Linked DNA regions of Homo sapiens. The protein of the gene in region 1 purifies or fractionates together with the protein of each later gene. This does not show direct contact. Each region holds a gene or a part of one and is shown in the gene's direction. Other genes may lie near its edges.

What was found.
Region 2: the proteins of KIF14 (region 1) and SUCLG2 purify together in Homo sapiens (affinity purification with mass spectrometry; 2 studies listed by BioGRID). This does not show direct contact.
Region 3: the proteins of KIF14 (region 1) and KIFBP purify together in Homo sapiens (affinity purification with mass spectrometry; 4 studies listed by BioGRID and IntAct, with this or other methods). This does not show direct contact.

The regions. Positions count from the first base shown.
Region 1 is NC_000001.11:200,589,720-200,596,824, reverse strand, and holds part of KIF14 (kinesin-like protein KIF14), read left to right. Parts: intron 1-3,055; coding exon 3,056-3,158; intron 3,159-4,584; coding exon 4,585-4,745; intron 4,746-6,552; coding exon 6,553-6,700; intron 6,701-7,105. UniProt on the Homo sapiens protein: Microtubule motor protein that binds to microtubules with high affinity through each tubulin heterodimer and has an ATPase activity. Plays a role in many processes like cell division, cytokinesis and also in cell proliferation and apoptosis.
Region 2 is NC_000003.12:67,525,613-67,532,612, reverse strand, and holds part of SUCLG2 (succinate--CoA ligase [GDP-forming] subunit beta, mitochondrial isoform 2 precursor), read left to right. Parts: intron 1-3,426; coding exon 3,427-3,526; intron 3,527-4,390; coding exon 4,391-4,481; intron 4,482-7,000. UniProt on the Homo sapiens protein: GTP-specific succinyl-CoA synthetase functions in the citric acid cycle (TCA), coupling the hydrolysis of succinyl-CoA to the synthesis of GTP and thus represents the only step of substrate-level phosphorylation in the TCA.
Region 3 is NC_000010.11:68,984,476-68,991,802, forward strand, and holds the start of KIFBP (KIF-binding protein), read left to right. Parts: upstream 1-4,327; 5' UTR 4,328-4,357; coding exon 4,358-4,783; intron 4,784-6,652; exon of another isoform or gene 6,653-7,327. UniProt on the Homo sapiens protein: Activator of KIF1B plus-end-directed microtubule motor activity. Required for organization of axonal microtubules, and axonal outgrowth and maintenance during peripheral and central nervous system development.

The DNA.
Region 1 (7,105 bases):
TGGGAGGCTGAGGCGGCAGATTACTTGAGACCAGGAGTTCAACATCAGCCTGGCCAACATGGTGAAACCTCATCTCTACTGAAAATACAAAAATTAGCCCGGCATGGTGGTGGGCACCTATAGTCTCAGCTACTTGGGAGGCTGAGGCATAAGAATCACTTGAACCTGGGAGGTGGAAGCTACAGTGAGCCAAGATGACTCTGCTATACTCCACCCTAGGCAATAGAGTGAGACTCTAACTCAAAAAAAAAAAAAAAAAAAAAGACTGTTGTACATTGAGGTCATAGAGATGTTCTAAATTTTCTTCTAGATGTTTTGAAGTTTTGCTTTCACATTTAAGTTATTGAATGTCTGGAATTTTTTATTTGGTGTGAATTAGGGATCTAAATTCATTTATTTTCCACATGAATAGCCATTTCTCCCAGTACCAAATATTAAATAGTTTATTGCTTCTTTTGGAATCTGTAGTGCTCCTACAAAAAATTTCTAAAAATATCAGAATCTGTTTCTTCCTACTAATACCCCATGGTCGTAATTACTTGAGCTTTGTAATGAATCTTTATTTATTTATTTTTTGATTTCAGAGTTTTGCTCTGTTGCCCAGGCTGGAGTGTAGTGGCACCATCTCAGCTCACTGCAACCTCCTGGAGTCGAGCAATTCTCCTGCTTCAGCCTCCTGAGTAGCTGGGATTGCAGATGTCTGTTACCACGCCTGGCTAATTGTTGTATTTTTAGTAGAGATGGGGTTTCACCATGTTGGCCAGGCTGGTCTCAAACTCCCACCTCAGGTGATCCGCCCACCTTGACCTCCCAAAGTGCTGGGATTACAGGTGTGAGCTACCACGACCGGCCTGTAATGAATCTTTATATCTTTTTTTTTTTTTTTTTTTTTGGAGATGGAGTCTCACTCTATCACCCAGGCTGGAGTGCAGTAGTGTGATCTTGGCTCACCGTAACCTCCACCTTCTGGGTTCAAGCGATTCTCGTGCCTCAGCCTCCTGAGTAGCAGCCACCATGCCCAGCTAGTTTTTTGTATTTTTAGTAGAGACGATTTCATCATGTTGGCCAGGCTCGTCTTGAACTCCTGACCTCAGGTGATCCACCCACCTTGGCCTCCCAAAGTACTGGGATTACAGACGTGAGCCACTGCACCTGGCCATGAATCTTTATATCTGTTAGGGCATATCCTTTTGTTCTTTAGGTTCTTTTGCTCTTTTATTAATTAATTATTTTCTTTAACAAATAAATACAGTATTATTAACATCTGTGGCAAAGATACAGAACATGCTCCCAAAGAGTTAAGAGTCCAGTAAGGAACTTGGAAGCCTCTTGCTTGCCTCTAACTCTCTACTTCCATTTTTCGTACCTTCCTCAGTTTATCTTGTTCACTAGACCATGAACTTTATGAAAGCTGATTTCATGTCTGTCTTCATTGCTGACACATAACTGGCTCTTGGAGGCTTAATGAATAAAAGAACTTCATGGCTGAGGCTGGTCATGTGAAAGAGAAAAAAAGAACTTCAGTATCTATTAATGCATATTAAGTGTTATGAGTACTGCATACTTACTGCTTAGAAGTGAAGAGAAGGAAGAGTTGACTTCTAACTTAAACCCTAAAGAACAGCTTCTTAGAGGACTCTAAATTGGGCCTTCAAGAATGGTTGCAAGAAGGGAGAGGATGTCCTATCTGGAAGGAATGACTCAAGGAAAGGAGGAAAGCTGACATTAAGGCAAATTCAGAGTATTCATATGGTTGATTAAGTGTGAAATGGGGTTCTTATGGGAAAATAGTGGCAGATGAGGGAGGTTGGTGGTTGAAGCCAGATTGTGGGGCGTCCAGAATGGTAGGCCATGGAATTTTGAGAGCAGAGTAGATAGAATTAGGAGAGGAAAGGGATCAGAACAAGTACACATTGTATAAACCTTCACCTGGATAAGACACTAGACTGGTAGGAGGGATGTAGTGCCTAAGGGTGAACTATTGTTTCCATGTACTTTTCTCTAGATGCTTTAATTAAACTATTATTCTCTAATCACAGATCTTGGAGCCTAATCCACAGCTAAAAAGATCTTTGGTTAGGACTCAGCTTTTGTTGCAGTTTTTCTTTCTATCCCGTTAATCCAAAGATGAATTGGACTTTGGAGTTTCTTTCCTATTCTCTGAATAAAAAGACTCAAATATGTAGCACTTATAGCTGATTTTCCACAGTATCACCTTATCATCCAGTAAATTAGATGTCTTAAGGGGTACACTTTGATCTCCATGTTTTTCCTTCCTCTGTAGTACCCTACTTTTCAAAAGGGGAGAAATATTTGTTCTTTCTGTTATTAAAGCTCATATGTAAAACCAGAAGCTTAGAAAATTAAAAAAACACTTAAAACTGTTTTATTCATAAGAAATCACTGGCAGTATGTTAATGTTTTTTGCTAGTTTTTTTTTTTTTTTTTTTTTTTTTGAATTTTTGGGGGAAGGTTTTTGTTTTCAAAGAAGTTATAATAAAAATACACCCAATGAAGAATGTTCCCACCACAGGTGGATCGGATTGCTAGAGGCCAGGCTTTTTTCACCAAACTTCAAAATCTAATTGGAGGCTCGATGCAGTGGCTCATGCCTGTAATCCCAGCATTTTGGGAGGCCGAGGCAGGTGGATCACTTGAGGTCAGGAATTAGAGACCAGCCTGGCGAACATGGCAAAACCCCATCTCTACTAAAATGCAAACATTAGCTGGGCAGGGCATGGTGGTGGGTGCCTGTAATCCTAGCTACTCAGGCAGCTGAGGCAGGAGAATTGCTTGAACCCAGGAGGTGGAGCTTGCAGTGAGCTGAGATTGTATCACTACACTCCAGCCTGGGCGACAGAGCAAGACTCCGTCTCAAAAAAAAAAAAAAAAAAAAACTAGTTGGAGGAAAATAAAATAATTTTAAATTATTGTTACATATTGGTATGAATCTTAACACCAAAGGAATAGCCCAAGCAGAATTATCCCATATTGCCTTTTTCTTACTTTTTAGTGTGTTCTATAATTGTTAACTATGTGCTTCTTATTTTAACAGTACTATCAAAAATTTTGGTGGGACAGTGAGTATTATCCCAGTTGGGGAAGCAAAGACATATGTAAATGGAAAACATATTTTGGAAATCACAGTATTACGTCATGTAAGTGGATGGGTGCTATAATATAAGAAACTGTTCGACTTTGGATAAGTCATTTAATTTCTTTGAGTTCTGGTTTTCTCTATAAGATAAGGGTGTTGAAGCAGATTAAGGACTTTTTCATTTCAAAAATTCTTTTTCCTATTAATTGCTTTCTTGTGCAAAGACAAAAGTTACATTTATATGAATCAGTACCTGAAGAGCTGACCACTAATAGCATCATTATGTGTCCTATAAAGAGCTAGGCTTTAGAATCAGACAGACAGGGTTGAAATCCTGGCTTTGCCATTTGCTCTGTGACGTCTGGCAAGTTATTTAACTAGATGATTAAACAATGTCACCCAAGTCAGGACACTTTTGAGATCATTATTAATAATTACATCAAGAGAACAAACATCAGCAGTGTGTTACAGGCAAACCCAGACCTATTGTGACTCTATATATCCTGCCTTTCAGAGATAGTGAAGGATTAACTGAAATAATAATTTGTGTATATAGTTCTTAGAATAGTATCTGCAAATAGTAAGCTCTCAATGAATGTCTCTTGTTATTATTAAGCTTTGTGCTGTTTAGTTTCCTCATTCCTAAAATTGGGATGATTATATGTATCTCACTGAGTTGTTGTGAATCGTAAATGAGATAACATAAAGTCTTGCACTTCATAATGATGTTTTGGGCAATGAGGGACCACATATGTAACAGTGGTCCCATAAGATTATAATACTGTATTTTTACTGTATTTTTTTCTGTTTAGATATACAATTATTTACCATTGTGTTATAGTTGCCTATGGTATTCAGTACAGTAACATGCTGTACAGGTTTGTAACCTAGGAGCAATAGGCTATGCCATATAGCCTAAGTGTGTAGTAGGCTATACCATCCAGGTTTGTGTAAGTACATTCCATGATATTCACACAACTATGAAATCACCTAACAGTGTACTTCTCAGAACATATCCCTGTTGTTAAGAGACATATGACTATATGTGTAATGTGCTTAATGCAGTGTTTGGTATATACAAAGTAATAAACGTTGGGAGGCCAAGGTGGGTGGATCATGAGGTCAGGAGTTCGAGACCAGCCTAGCCAACATGGTGAAACCCCATCTCTACTAAAAATGCAAAAATTAGCTGGGTGTGGTGGCACACGCCTGTAATCCCAGCAGCTCGGGAGGCTGAGGCAGGAGAATTGCTTGAACCCGTGAGGCCGAGGTTGCAGTGAGCTGAGATTGTGCCATTGCACTCCAGCCTGGGTGACATAGTGAGACTCTGTGCCAAAAGAAAAAAAAAGTAATAAATGTTAGTTGCTATGATGTTTATGTTTATCATTAATACTAGACTATATTGAATTGTTGGGCAAAATAAATTTTCTCATTTAATTTTTTGGTTGAGACTCACCTCAAGTAGTACATTTTTTTGTGTGCTTTAGGGTGATCGAGTGATTCTTGGTGGAGATCATTATTTTAGATTTAATCATCCAGTAGAAGTCCAGAAAGGAAAAAGGCCATCTGGAAGAGATACTCCTATAAGTGAGGGTCCAAAAGACTTTGAATTTGCAAAAAATGAGTTGCTCATGGCACAGAGATCACAGTAAGTATGCTGTTGATATGAAATAGTAAGTGTATGAGAGAGATCTACAACAGAGTTAATCACATTGTGCCAGTCTCTAGTAATTAACTCTTTGGGTGCTGGTTTCTAGTGATATAATTTTTTCTCTTAGTACATTCATTAGTTCACCAAATATATATTGACCATCTATTATGTGTCTGTCACTGTACCAAATGCTGGAGATATAAAGAATAAGGATTGAAATTTAGCTCATGTGCTGAAAGAATTCATCATCTCGAGGGGCTGACAGTTATAACAGTGCTATGACACAGTTCTCTGACAAGAGTCCCGAACTGTGTGGTGTGGAAGCTCACGGGGTGACACCTGGCCCTGACCGGTTATCAGGGAAGGTTTCTAGAAGATGAGAAGACGTCCCATAGAGGAGAATCCCAATAGACGATTAGAATTTAGCCAGAGGAAGACTGGGAGAGTGTACTTTTGTTTTTCTTTTCTTCTTGTGCCCCAGTTTTAGTTCATGCAGTATCGTAGGATTTCTGGCATAAGTAGTATCCTTGTAAGCTAAATGGTAAAGTATATACAAATAAAATGCTAAAGAGTTTGGACTTTATCTTAAAGGATAAGGGAAACATTAAAGAATTTTGAGCAGACGTGAGACACTCATAATCAGAATTACATTTTTAGAGAGATCACTGGCACTCAAATCTGGAGAATGCATTAGAGATAGAGCAAGCTTAAAACCTGCAAATGCAGCTAAGAGACTATTGAAGTAAGGTAAATATAGTGTGATTAGGTAGGAAGGAAACATAAAGGAGATAAGATTGACAAGGCCTGGTGACTAAAGAGGATGAAAGGAGGAGGAATCAAGAACTGGTTATAGGCTAGACTAACTGCTTTGTCACCTTTTAAGAAGCCTCAACCTGCTTTTGCCCTTTAAAAAGAATTTTTTTAATTGAATACAATATAAATAGCACAAAATTTACCATGTTAGCCATTTTTAATTGTATAGTCCAAAGGCATTAAGTACCTTCACATTGTTTTGTGGTTTTTTTTTTGTTTGTTTTTTGGTTTTTTTTTGAGATGGAGTCTGGCTCTGTCGTCTAGGCTGGAGTACAGTTGGCATGATCTGGGTTCATTGCAACTTCCACCTCCTGGCCTCAAGCCATCCTCCCACCTTAGCCTCCCGAGCATGTGAGACTATAGGCGCACACCACCACGCCTGGCTAATTTTTGAATTTTTTTGTAGAGATGGGGTTTCACCATGTTGCCCAGGCTGGTCTCGAACTCCTGAGCTCAAGCAGTCCACCTGCCTTGGCCTCCCAAAGTGCTGGGATTACAGGCGTGAGTCACTGTGCCCACCCTAGTGCCTTCACGTTGTTGTGCAACCATCACCATCATCCATCTCCAGAAATGTTTTATTATTCCAAACTGAAACTCTGTATTTGTTAAACAATAGCCATTCTCCTCTCTCCCTAGCTGTGATATCCACTAACCTTCTTTTTTATACTCTTATTCTTTTTTTCAGTAAAATTGGGAATGGAAATTTCTGTATAATGTAGTTACTAAAGCACTGATTTTATTTAAATGTCAGGCATCTGCAATAGTAACTAAGTTAGAAATAAGCAATTTTTCGTCCTGCGTGTTTAAATTTTGAGTGTAAACAATTGTAGAGCCAGTGAAAATTTTAAAAACACTGTTGATAGAATGTCAGAAATCAAGTTTTAAGATTGAAACTTTCATTCAATGGAAAACTTTTCAGTAGGATTAAGAACTATTATGATGTATAAAGAATTCTTAACATGTACCCTATAAACATCTTGCTACATTGTAGACTTGAAGCAGAAATAAAAGAGGCTCAGTTGAAGGCAAAGGAAGAAATGATGCAAGGAATCCAGATTGCAAAAGAAATGGCTCAGCAAGAGCTTTCTTCTCAAAAAGCTGCATATGAAAGCAAAATAAAAGCACTGGAAGCAGAACTGGTAAAAGGCAGAATTAGTTTTATTTTTTTTTTCCGACAGTGTACCCCAAGTGATGTGTTGCCTATAAAGTTGATTATGTCCCTATAAGGGAACTGGGAGAGATCAGAGATTAGTGAATCAAAGCCACAGTGAGTCTTGGCCCTCTTTAATTTTACTTTAAGAAATAAGTCAGGGCTGAGCATGGTGGCTCATGCCCGTAATCCCAGCTCTTTAGGAGGCCAAGGCGGGCAGATTACTTGAGCCCAGGAGTTCAAGACCAGCCAGGGGCAATGTAGGGAAACCGGTCTCTCCAAAAAGTTTAAAACATTAGCTGGGTGTGGTAGCATGCGCCTGTAGTCCCAGCTACTCAGAAGGCTGAGCTAGGAGGATCATCTAGCCCAGGGAGGTCAAGGCTGCAGTGAACCT
Region 2 (7,000 bases), on another chromosome or scaffold:
GGTTATTTTCAGAAACTCACTAAGAAAGGAACAAAATTTAGTGAAGACGTTGCATACTTAGGCTACTGCGTATAAAAATAGCAATTAAGAGCAAAGACTTTGGAGTTATCCAGACCCAAGTTATACCAACTCAGAGTCCAATAATATAATTATCAATGTCTAGGTTGTTGTCTACTTCTATATAAAATCTATTTTATGCCTGTAATCCTAGCACTTTGGGAGGCTGAGGTGGGCAGATTGCCTGAGCTCAGGAGTTTGAGACCAGCTGGAGCAACATGGGAAACCTCATCTCTGCTAAAAATACAAAAAATTAGCTGGGCATGGTGGCATGTGCCTGTAACCCCAGCTACTCAGAAGGCTGAGGCAGGAGAACCGCTTGAACCCGGGAGGCAGAGGTTGCAGTGGGCCAAGATCACACCACTGCACTCCAGCCTGGGTGACAAAGTGAGACTCTGTCTAAAACAAAAAACAAAAATAAAACCCCAACTCATATTAGAGTTAATTTTTTCCTCTGTCCTTTTAGCTTGTTTTTCTAAAGGATGGTTAAGTCGTCTTATTCAGACAAAAATTGCATTTCATATATGGGATTTTTTTTTCTTTTCTAATACCGTTCAGGATTGGGGCAAGAGGCAATGTTAAATAAAAACAGAAATTTGAGTTTTGGGAGAGATCAGATCTTTAAATAAATAGAAACAGTGACATTTAGTACATGTGAATCAATTTGGTAAATACTGAATGAAGAGACGAGTTACTGTTGAGTGGGATTTGTCATCTTAATTTTCAGCACCTTGAGTAAATAAGCCTTGAATTAAATTACTTCATGAGAGTTTTTCTCAAGATGAGAAAAACTTGCTTTACTTTGGGCTGCTGACTTGCTGACTTACTATATTGATTTAGCACTTGAGATGTAATCAGAAGAGATGATTTTAGTGAACTCATTTTTGGCCTGGGGTGTATGTTGCAGATGTGCGTAGGTTGTTGTCTTTTTCTATTTGTCCTGATCTCTGGTTTCATAGTCTCTGAACTGGTTGCTTGTTCTACCAACACTGTTTTGCATGGAATACTTTGACTGGAGGTCAAATGGCGACACGTTTAATTGACAACACTTCATTGAGGATACAACTCTTTCTGTGTCTTGATGGTTAGTGACTAAAGCTGATCTAATCAAGCCTATGTAGTGCCAATTAACAATGCCCAATTAGGTATTCTCTCTGGCTTTCAAGTTTTGCTGCTGGAAAGCTCAGAGAGGAAAGCATCTCTTCAGGATGACAAGGATATGAAAAATGATAATGGCAATGGAATGCCAGTTATGTAAAGAATTTGAAGTGATCACAATTAAAAATTTGAGTAGACAGCAAAAAGTATTTTTTCCACTTGATGTCTTCCAAAGAAAAACAGGAAATGTCTTCCTGTGTGCCATTTTTTCTTAATTGCTGAAAATTATTATAATGTTGATAGCTATCATATTTTGACTTTAAAAAAATGTGCCAGGCACTTTACTGTATTTCATTTATTCTTCACATCATCCTTACACTGTAGACTTCTTTAATATGACTACTTTACAGAAGGGCATGCTACTTTTACCTTTCTGAATCTCAGTTGTTTCTTCTCTACAAAGAAAGTGATAGGTAGAGTTGGAGATTTTAACCAGGTCTGTTTAACTCCAATATCCTTGCTCTTACTACTGTTCTTGCAGTAAGCTAAATATGCAATGTATTCATTTTACTTGGTTGCTTTCCTTGTGAGTTTCTGACAATTAATTTGTCTTCTACTCAGCTTGATGGAAACCAGTTTATTATAAGACAGGGCTTGACCAATGTTGTGATGGTTCGTATCCAGGGCAGAAATTATTGCCAGAGGGTACACAGGACAGCCTTCTAAGAAAAAACTGTGTTTGCTTCTGAGAAGAAGGTGGGCTTCAGCTTTCTGAGTGTAAGCAAATATAGGAGACAAGAAGACTAACCAATGAAGGCAGTGAAGGAGCCTCAATGGTGTGACATCAGCTGGCTGAATGCCTTCTGTAAAATACTTCTGTAGCTCCCCATTGCCTTGATGATAAAACCTTCCACAGCTCTTTCCGTTTGAACCTTTACCTGCTTGCCTGTGGGTAACAATGATGATGACAGTGACAGTAATAGCTGAAATAACCAAACTTAATGGAGCGCTTGTTAGTTTTTTGGTTTAGCCATCTCTGTAATGATTCCTTTCATTCTTTACAATATACAAAGGTAATAAATGAACTAACTGGTCGAGGCAATAGTTTTTAATTAATCACAAGTTTTCAGGCTCTGGGATAAAGCATTCATGTGTGTTCATTTAATTTTTAAAACAACCCTTGTCATCATTTCACAGTTGAATAAACCGAGTTTCAGAGACATTAAGTAACTTGCCTAATGTCACACAGCTGGGTGAGGGATGAAGGCCAGATTGAAACCTGGGTTTGCAGATTCTAAATCTGGTATACTGAACCAGAATACTCTCATGGCCTTATAGGGGATCAGCTGGGTTCTGTGATTTTAAATAAAGATGACTCACAAACAGAGGATATCAGCTGTGGTCTGCAGTTGTGTGCTATTTGGTTTATTAAACATATTTGATTTGGAGGCAGTTTTTTGTTTGTTGTTGTTTTGTTTTGTTTTGGTGGTTGGGGAGGGGAGCTACCCTGTTTGCTAAAGGCCCCATTTGTCACTGGGCTACTTCATGCACCCAACTTCCCTGCAAGGGAAGATATTTGTGTTAATAACTCTCGTCTAAAAAGTCAAGATTAGAGAGTTCTTTCATTCGTGGAGTGTGATGAGAAACAAAGATTCCACAACCACTTTCCCCCAGGATATTTTGTTACCTTGCCAATGATTTTAAAATATTGCTTGCTTTTAGTTTTAATCCATTTCCTCCTCCCTTTCCCAACCCTATCAGTATATAGAACAACTGCTCAGAAAACTGTTGGTTTCCAATAATGCAGTTATTAACTATGACCTTTGTGTCTTGTCTTTAAACCTTCCCCCGCATAATCCAGTCTTCCCTTTGACATCTCTGATGGTTAGCTCCTCTTACTGGCCAACTGGTGCCTCTGCCACATGGGAGTGCCATTACACAGTAAAATTAATACCTCCTTCCAGGATTTATTTAGCTTCTTCTGACACACTCAAAAGAGCAAGGGAACACATGTCTTGCTTTCCCTTGGGAAGGTCAAGTATTAGATGATTAAACTGGTAGGAAGCATTTGAATATCCTCAGTAAACAAGCTTTGTATTTAGGCTCATAGATGTTTTTTTGAAGTTCTTCATTGCATTTATTTTCAAAGTTAGTTTGAGAGAGCTTTTACCAGTTACTTGGAAGTTATGTGCCATTATTGCTTTCCTTATTGCTTAAAAAACAAAAAAAGAATTTAAAATCAGCTACCAACTCTGGATTTTTCTTTTTCAGATGCAAAAGAAATTGTTTTAAAAGCCCAGATCTTAGCTGGAGGAAGAGGAAAAGGTGTCTTCAATAGTGGTTTGAAAGGAGGTGTTCATTTAACAAAAGAGTAAGTCTGGAGGTTGTTATTCCTTGTCTTTTGGCCAAGCAGTTATGGAAGATCTTGCTCAAGATTGAAAGGCACACTGAGGTTGGTTGTGGTGGGGTAGGAGCGGGCCAAAGCAACTAGAAGAAACTGAAATCATAGGTAGAGGGCTCTGGCAGTGCCCTAGTTTTCCTTCTGCCCCCACAAAATGATTTTTCTTACTAATTGGTGAAAACTTGACAGTCCTTCTGTCCTAAACAATCAATGATTCATCATAAATGTTGGAAATGATACCACTTCCAACTGAAATGCTACTTCCATAATGTCACTCCTCTATTCAAGGACCTGAAGGGACTCCCCATTACCAGTGGCATCTGGGGTACCTCCCCTCTGATAGTCCAAGCCTTCCTTTATTTGAGCCTGTCTTTTCAACTTCATCTCCTGCATCTCCTAGCACTGAACACTTTCCTCTCCTCCCTGTTCCTGTCACACACCTTTTTACTATTTACTTTGATCTTTACCCTCTTCCTTTCCCTCTCATTGTTCAATATCTCCCCAGTTTTCCACTGTCGGATCTTCAGTCAACCCTTATCTGAATCTGGTGTGCATTTCAGCATTCTCTCTTTACTATGACTGTAACTTTTTTGGGTGAAGAGGTCACAAAGCATCTTTTGTTTCATTTATTCATTCATGAACTCACTTTTATTTTGCTCTCAGTGAGCCTCTAGTACAGTGCTAAACACGCAGCACATAAGCAGAAAGACTCATGGATTTTGTGAGGGTGAAGGTGAACCCTTTGCAGTGTAGACATGAGGCTCTGTGTAAGGACTCTCATTTAAATGATTTTCAACAAACATTCATTTTCTGCTTGTTTTCTCTTTCTCTTAGCCCTAATGTTGTGGGACAGCTGGCTAAACAGATGATTGGGTACAATCTAGCGACAAAACAAACTCCAAAAGAAGGTGTGAAAGTTAACAAGGTAATATGGATACTTTGGGTCATTTTCTATATATGTGTTAAAAAATAGAAAAGAAAACCATCCTTCAGTTTTTGACAGAATCTAATGAAGTACTGCTCTTTGGCAGTGTGCCATTTTATTTTTTAAAGCTCATCTAATCTGTTTAGTAAGTAGTATGTCTTGGAGGAGAAATAAAAAGGGCTCTATGATAGTAATATTATTTATTATCATTAGCATTTAGCAAAAAGTGGGTGAGGGTGAGTGACCGAGCAATGGCTTTCCCTCTGAGAACACAGATGCATTCTATTTAGTTGAGAAGCGCTTGCTGTGACAGCCTTATACTCAGTGAGGGACATTCGCTGCTCCCACACAGTGGCCCTCAACCCCAGGCGTGTCTGTCAGAATTACCTATTGTGGTTGTTTTTCTAAATGCCCCATTCCTTATTTTAGGATGACTGTAATTTTGAGCCATTTTTATTGCTGGGGGTATATTGCATTAGGAAGGTCAGCTGAAGTACCCAAGTATGTATAGCATGTGGACACACACCCCTCATCCACACATAGAAAATAAAGCCCAGAGGAAAGTGGCCTGCCTCAGTCATGAAATTGTGAGTGGTAGAGCTGAGACCAGAACCTAACTCTCCCTCCTGCCAATCTACCTTTCACCATCCCTTTTGTGTATCCAGACACTAGAACTAGCTACCTGGGTTGCAGAATCCAGTGCCAAATAAAAAGGCAGGGACCCGTGTTAAAATTTCAAGACAGCTATAGCTAAACATTAAATCCCTTTACAACTACACAGATCACATGTGTCAGCCCTGAAAAGCATCCATGGTTAGAAGATCCTGTCCTAACAGCGAATTAGGGTCCTGCATTTTGGGGTGGCAGCTGTCTGCTCTGTTGACATAGCGTCACAGATCAGTGGTCTCTACCAATGCACCATGCTGCAGGACACTGCAGTGGTGACATCCTGTTTTTACTTTTCAGGGAGAGTTTTGTGGAAAACTCTTAAGTTGTTGTATTTATCAGTATTTAGTTCCATTTTCTTTTGTTAATTTTTGTGGGTACATAGTAGGTGTATATATTTATAAGGTACATGAGATGTTTTGATATAGGCATACAATGTGTAATAATCCCGTTACAGTCCTTTTTCTTGCTATGTAGCAATCTATGATATGGATGTACCTACCACAGTTTGTTTAACCATCATCTGTTGAAAGACATCTGGGTTGGTTCGTTTTTGGCTATTACAAATAAAGCCACTCTAGACATTCATGAACAGGTTTTTGGTATAAATATAAATCTTCATTTTGGGGGATAATTGTTGGGTTATGTGGAAGTTGTATAATTAGTTTTTTTAAGAAACTGATGAATGTTTTCCAGCATGGCTGTTCCATTTTACATTGCCATCAGCAATGTGTAAGTGGTCAGGGTTCTCCACATTCTAGCCCGCATTTGGTGGTGGTGGTATTATTTTAGCCATTCTTATGGGTGTGTAGTGATATTTCATTGTGATTTTAATTTGCATTTCCCTAATGGCTAAAGATGTTGAACATCTTTTCATGTGCTTATTTGCCATCTGTAGATTGTGGTTGGTGAATTGTCTGTTCATGGATGCTATGGTCTGAATGCTCCCTCCAAAATGCATGTTGAAATTTAATCCCCATTGTGGTTTGCATTAAGAGGCAGAGCCTTTTGGGAAGTGATTAGTCATGAAGGCTCTGCCCTCATGAATGGATTAGTGCAGGCTTGTCCAACCCACGGCCCACAGGCCACAGGCATCCCAGGATGGCTTTGAAAGTGGCCCAAGACAAATTTGTAACCTTTCTAAACATTATGAGATTTTTTTTGCAATTTTAGTTTCTTAGCTCAGCTATTGTTAGTGTTAGTGTATTTTATGTGCGGCCCAAGACAATCCTTCTTATGCCATTGTGGCCCAGGGAAGCCAAAATATTGGACATCCCTGGTAGTGCTTTATAAAAGGGCTGAAGGGAACTAGCTTAGACCTGTTTTGCATTTCCACTTTCTGCCATGTGAGGATGAAGCAAGAAAGGCCATATCACTAAATGGCGGTGCACTGATCTTGGACTTCCCAGCCTCCAGAACTGTGAAACAATATATTTTTGTCCTTTATAAATGACCAAATCTCAGGTATTTTGTAACAGCAGCATGAAGAGACAAAGCAAATTTCTTTTGGCCATTTTCTAATTAGATTATGTTTTTACTATTGAGTTTTGAGTTATTCTAGGTACTAGTCCACTGTTGGATATGTGCTTTGTAAGTATTATCTGTTACACTATATAACGTATATATTCATTTTTTCAACAGGGTCATTTGCAGGGCAAAAGTGTTTAATTTTGATGAAGTCCAATACGTCAATATTTCCTTTATGGATTATACCTTTTTAGTATCAGGTCTAAGTCCTCTTTACGTTGCCCTACATAATAAAAATTTTCTCATGTTTTTTTCTAGATGTTTTATAGTTTTATGTTTTATATTTAGGTTTGTGATCCATTTTGAGTTGACTTTTGAATAAGTTG
Region 3 (7,327 bases), on another chromosome or scaffold:
TTTATCACTTTACCCTTGTTCCTCATGGCTTCCCATCAAGCCATGGGTATTAGGTGACAGTGTAATTTATTAGATTCTGGTTTTGCCCAAATACTGGGCATGCTTTAATAATAACTGAACCATTTCATTATTTGGATAGGCATGGGTACCTTATCAAGCAGATTAAAAGGATATGGTACCCGTCCTTTAGAAAAGAACAGCTAAAACCTTGTTGTGGATTATGGATTTAGCCTAAAGAAAAATAATCTGGCATAAATTAAGAGTAAGAGAGAAGATTAATAGAAATTTCACTTCACATAACTTAAAACATGGCTATTTCAATAAAGGACTAAAGTTTCTCCTGGATCCCAGAATTCAACCTGTATTTATAAATGTATAATGTATTTAGCTACTTTTTGGTTTAAATGAACTTGTTGGGTTAGCTTGGTAAATGTTATAATTTTTACTATTTTCTACAAAGAAAATATTTTCTAATTTAAGTTGGAGCTATCTGTGCAGCAGTTTCTCTACAGTTGTGCATAAATGTTTTTACTATAAAATGAGCTAATGTATAAAATACTGCTGTATACCATAATAAAGATAGTAATACTTGATTTTAGTGGCTTTTGTTTTCTAAAATGAAAATAGCTTGAAATATTTATTATAAAAATAATAAAAGCTAGATATAAAAATCTAAAGAGAAAAAAAACCAGTCACCCTTATCTAATATTTTAGTGAGCAGTCTTCCACATGTTCATTTATAAAATTGGAATTATTTGATTTTGTGTATTGCTTTTCCCCCCTCAACATGTTGTGCACAATTTTGTACAGGCTTACATGGACATTTTTGATGACATGTTTTCTTGTATGGATATGCCACTACACATTTAACCAGTACTCGATGTCCATGTTGGTTATTTCTAATTTTTCACCATTATAAACAACCCTAAAGTTAATATCCTCACATATGTGTTTGCATACTCGTCTGTCACCTTAGGATACGTTTTCTAAAGGTAGAACTACAGCTTTGAACTCCTAGGCTCAAGTGATCTTCCCTCTCAGCCTCCCAAGTAGCTGAGACTACAGGGGGGTACCACCAAACCTGGCTAATATTTAAATTTTTTATAGAGATGGAGTCTCATTCTGTTGATCAAGCTGTTTGTGAACCCCTGGCCTCAAGCAATCGTCCTGCCTTGGCCTCCCAAAGTGCTGGGATTATAGGTGTGAGCCACCATGCCCGCCCTCTTCTAATTATCTGTCATGAGATGGATCTCCAGTCATTGCATTGAGGTTTATGTATTTAATATATTTAGTGTTTTCCCTATACCGGGGCATGGATTTTTGTCTTTCTTTGAGACAGGGTCTCTATCTGTTACCCAGGATGGAGTTCAGTGGCATGATCATAGCTCACTGCAGCCTTGAACTCCTGGGCTCTAATGACCCTCTTACTTCAGTCTCCCACTTAGCTAAGACTATAGGCATGTGCCGCCACACCTGGCCAATATTTCTTTAAAAATGTTTTTTGTAGAAAAATTAGCTGGGCATGGTGGCGGGCGCCTGTAGTCCCAGCTACTTGGGAGGCTGAGGCAGGTGAATGGCGTGAACCCGGGAGGCAGAATTTGCAGTGAGCTGAGATCATGCCACTGCACTCCAGCCTGGGTGACAGAGCAAGACTCTGTCTCAAAAAAAAAGATGTTTTTTGTAGAGCCAGGGATCTCACTATATTGTCCAGGCTGGTGAATTTTTATCCATTTTTTACTGCTGAATTCCCAGCACCTACAACAGTGCTGGCAAATAATAGATAACTAAATATTGAACAGGTGAACAAATTTTTTTTTTTTTTTTTTTTTTTTGAGACAGGGTCTCACTCTGCTACCCAGGCTGGTGTGCAGCGGCTTGATCACAGCTCACCGCAGCCTCCAACTGCCAGGTTCAGGTGATCTCCCATGTCAGCCTCCTGAGTAGCTGGGACTACAGGCATCCACCACCATGCCTGTCAAATTTTTGTATTTATTTATTTATTTTTTTGTAGATACGGGGTTTTGCCATGTTGCCCGGGCTGGTCTTGAACTCCTGGGCTCAATCGATCCCGCGACCTTGGCCTCCCAAAGTGCTAGGATTACAGGTGTGAGCCATTGCGCCTGGCCCAAATCATTTTAAATGTACTGGGAGATGCACTGATAGGAGGCCAAACTGGCAGCAGGACTGCCTGTTAGAAGTAATCAGATGATGGTGGCCTAAACTAATGGAGATAAAAAGATGTACACAGAGCTCTTTAGGAGGTGGACTAAGCAGTACTATCTGGTTTTAGGTTTAATGACAGAAGAGGCCTGGTGCAGTGGCTCACGCCTGTAATCACAGTACTTTGGGAGGCCAAGGCGGGCACATTACTTCAGGTCAGGAGTTCGAGACCAGTATGGCCAACATGGTGAACCGCCCCCCCAACCCCGTCTCTACCAAAAATACAAAAATTAGCTAGGTGTGGTGGTGCACACCTGTAATCCCAACTACTCAGGAGGTTGAGGTTGCAGTGAGCTGAGACCACGCCAGTGCACTCCAGCCTGGGCAACAAAGCAAGACTCCGTCTCAAAAAAAAAAAAAAAAAAAAAAAAGAATGACAGAACAGGCTGGGCTTGGTAATCCCAGCACTTTAGGGGGCTGAGGTGGGAGGATTGCTTGATAAGCCTGGGCAACATGGCAAGACTCCATCTCTACCAAAAAAAAAAAAAAAAGTGCAGGAAATCAGCCTGGTGGATGGTGGTGCCATTCACTGACATGTAGAACTGCAAATGTGGCAAATTTGGTATGGGAAGGAAGGGGCATGTGAAGAGGAAGATCATTTAGACTTGAACATACTGACACACAGCAGCTATTGAAACATTCAGGTGTGATTGTTGTAGCTGGATGTTGGATATTCCAGTCTGGAGCTCTGGAGAGCCATCTGGCCTGGAGACAAAGTGGGAGTGAGCAGCGTGTTTAATGATAGACCTGGAAATGGATGAGATCTCCCAGGGATAAGGTTTAGGAAGGACTTTTTAGGAGCATTAACACTTAAAGGATAGACGTTTAATTTTATTTATTCTTCAGAATAATTCTGTCGAGGTAAGTAGTATCATTCAGATTTTACTGTGGGAAACCTGAAGCTTAAAAAAGTTAACTTGTCAATAAGAAAGCTGGTTGGTCTGAGGTTCAAACCATATGTCTATGAGCTCCCAAAATCAATGCTCCTTTGTATGTCTCAAAGCACTGTACACAGCTGGTGCTTAATAGTTAAAATCTTCTATCACCCCTCCCCATTTGACTTGATAACTTAGGAAGGTAAAAGGCATGAGGCGGCTTTCACAGCTGTGGGACTTAGCTCTTGTTACCTTGGGCAGTTGTACAGATTCCTACAACCTGTATTTCAGGGTCGAAGTGAAAATATTTGTCTATCACTGAGTGTTTTGTATATTTATGGCTCTCGATCAAGAGATTATGTGTCAATGATAATAATCAGCTCTTGGCTACATTTCAATTTTTTTTCTTTTATTTTACTTTTAAGTTCTGGGATACATGTGCAGAACATGCAGGTTTGTTACATAGGTATACATGTGCCATGGTGGTTTGCTGCACCTATCAACCTGTCAGCTAAGTTTTATGCCCCGCATACATTAGGTATTTGTTCTAATGCTCGTGTTTTCTTTTTTTCTGAGGCAGTCTCGCTCACTGTAACCTCCACCTCTTGGGCTCAAGCCATCCTTCCGCCTCAGCCTCCATGGTAGCTGGGACTACAGTCGCGCGCCACCACGCCCGGCTAATTTTTTAAAAAAAATTATGTAGAGATGGGTCTTGCTATGTTGCCCACTCCAGTGGGCATCCCAAAATGTTACTGGCATCCCAAAATGTTAGGATTGCAGATATGAGCCACTGCGCCTGGCCTTTTTTAAAAAAAGTTTTATCCAGTGACAGGCTGGGCTATACACTTAATGTCTAAAGGTTTTTGCCTTTCAGTTCATATCAACGCGAGTAGAGTTAGCTAGCTATGTTTGTAAACAATATTCCGATATGCTTCGTTAAAGTAAGCCGATATTAAACATTTATATAAATCCATCCTCACAGGGTCAATCTGGAGATAAACTCACCGCTGCAGGGGGCGGGGAAGGAGGTGGGAACACGCTCATTGACAACTTCATTTCCATGAGAATGGTTGCTGTGGTGATTGCTGCGTCTTCCCATTGGTCATTGCCGAGCGTATTGCGGTTCTCCGGGAGGGTTATATTGGTTCCCATTCCACAGCGGCCGCAACGTGTCGAGAGCCGTAAGTAAAGTGTCGCAAAGCAGAAGGAAGGCGGGAGTCCCGACTGCAAACATTGAGGAAAGCCAGGCAGTAGAGGCCGCTATGGCGAACGTTCCGTGGGCAGAGGTCTGCGAGAAATTCCAGGCGGCGCTCGCTCTGTCGCGGGTGGAACTGCATAAAAATCCGGAGAAGGAACCATACAAGTCCAAATACAGCGCCCGGGCGCTACTGGAAGAGGTCAAGGCGCTGCTCGGCCCTGCGCCTGAGGACGAGGATGAGCGGCCTGAGGCCGAGGACGGCCCGGGTGCCGGTGACCACGCCCTGGGGCTGCCGGCTGAGGTGGTGGAGCCCGAGGGGCCCGTCGCCCAGCGAGCGGTGAGGCTGGCAGTCATCGAGTTCCACCTCGGGGTGAACCACATCGACACGGAGGAGCTGTCGGCGGGGGAGGAGCACCTGGTGAAATGCCTGCGGCTGCTGCGCAGGTACCGGCTCTCGCACGACTGCATCTCTCTCTGCATCCAGGCGCAGGTGAGAGCGAGCCCGGCCAGGCCGGCCCCTGTTGGCAAATGGCGAGGGATGGGGAGGAGCCCCTGCCAAGGCCAAGGGCAGACGTTGTAAGGCGCAATTCGTCCCCACGTTTTTGTAGCTCTGGACTGAGTCCCAAAGAGCGTCTGTGGTCTTCAAAAAAGCCAGTCTTATGGACTTATTGCCTTGTAACTAGATCTCCCACAGTCGGCCGTCCCCAGACTCCGTGTCCACCCTCGTCGCCCACACCAATATCGCTTGCTGCTGCTTCACTTAGACGTGGCGATGCATTGGTGTCCGAGACCCTCCTACATCGTCATGCGCTTTCCTCTCCACCAGTCCAACTCCTGTTCATTCTGTTAAGAAAATCCAAAGTAATTTAAATCTTAACGTCTCAAGGAAATGACAATGACCGGAGTACATTCTTTTTTGGTTTTGTCTTGTTTTTGTTTTTTTCTTAGAGATGGGGTCTCACTGTGTCGCCCAGGTTCGAGTTAAGTGGCACCATCATAGCTCATTGCAGCTTCCACCTCTTGGGCTCAAGCAGTCCTCCTGCCTCAGCCTTCATAGTAGCTGGAACCACAGGCGCATGCCACCATTCTTGGTAATTTTTTTAATTTTCTGTAGAGATGGGGGTCTCACTATATTGCCCAGGCTGGTCTTGAACTCCTGGACTCAAGTGATCCTTCTGGCTCACCTTCTCAAAGTGCTGGGATTACAGGCCTGAGCCGCTGTGCCTGGCTCGGAATACATTCTTAATTCAAAATAAAATGTCCAAAATCTGCAGCTTCCTTTCTTACCAAATTCATTTGTTTGCATCTTAGGGAATTCTTCCCCATTCTTGAAAACCTATCTCAAGAATCACTTCCTTTAGTATTAATAACTTTCTTGGGACCATTTTGGGCCAAACTGATCTCTCCCTCCTACCTTTGAATTCTTATAATACTTTTTGTTTCCCATTTATATGGTACTTGGTTTCTTAAATAAATCTGGGCAGGGCACAGTGGCTCCCATCTGTAATCCCAGCATTTTGGGAGGCCGAAGTGGGAGGATGGCGTGAGGTCAGTAGTTCAAGACCAGCCTGGGCAACAAAGTGAGACTCTGTCTCTTAAACAAAACAAAACAAAACAAAAAACCCACAAAACTAGCCAGGCATGGTGGTACACGCCTGTAGTCTTAGCTACTGGGGAGGCTAGGTTGAGCTGGGAGGATCACTTGAGCCCCTGGAGGAGCCATGATCATGCCACTGCAACTGCAGTCTGGGTGACAGAGCAAGACCTTTTCTCAACAACAACAAAATCCACATCAATATTCTAAAGTAATATTGGTCAACACCTGTGAAAAGAAGGGGTGAAAAAAAGAAAAATACTTTAAAAAGTTAAAATAATATTGGGACAGGTGAACATGGATGTTTATCACAGCAGTGTTGATTATTAAAGAAGGAAAATCGCAGGGCTGAGGCAGGAGGATCGCTTGAGCCCAGGAGGTCAAGGCTGCAGTGAGCCAAGATTGTATCACTGCACTCCAGCCTGTGCAACAGAGTGAGACCCTGTCTCAAAAAGCAAAGAAAAGGAAAACAATATAAATGTCAGTAGGAATATGATTAAATTCCGTTACATCCAAACAGAAGAACAGTACACAATTATTAAAAATAATAATTTATATTAACAAAAATTGGCAATATGAAGAGGGAGGAAGAAGACTATAAGCCATATTTAGAATTATGTAGAAAAGGCCGGATGTGGTGGCTCACACTTGTAATCCTAGCACTTTGGGAGGCTGGGATGAGATGATCACTCGAGCTTAGGAGTTCAAGACCAACCTGGGCACATAGTGACACCTCATCGCTACTAAAAATAAGAAAAAAAAATTATTCCAGGCATGGCTGCTTTGCTAGGCAGTATGTTCTTTGGGCAGCCATCGGGGCCCCAACCACCACCGGGGCTCTGGGGCCAGGCTTCCTTTACTTACCAGCAGCTCCAGGGCCTCTGAGACCTTCTAACAGTACTTTGGTGGATGACATGGAGTCATCTTTCCAGACTTGCTTTGCCTCTCCGTTAAGTCAGGACTATGTCAATGGCAGCAATCAGGAAGAAATTGGAACTGGTGTTGATCGGTGTATACACAAGTTTCTGGATATTGCAAGACAGAATATTTCTTTCCTACAAAAAAGATTGCAATTATCTGTCCAGAAACCAGAGCAAGTTATCAATGAGGATGTCGATGTCTCCGAACTAAGAAATGAATAACATTGGAGACATGCACTGGTCCAGAAGCACTTGACAAAGCTAAGGCATTGGCAGCAAGTGCTGGAGGTCATCACGTGCAGTACAAAAAGCTAGCTGACATCCATCAAGGCTCCTTGGTCTACCTTGAGCAGGCATTCAATATCCCTGCACTTCTGAAGTGCACCTGAGCAAAAGGGTAAAGGCTGTGGGCCTGAGAGTGGGCTGGTGTGGGAGAGCCCCATGCAGATGGTTTGCCACACATCCCTTCTTGTAGACTTGGCATTTTGGAAGAACTCTTTGACAGAGAATGAGTTGATTT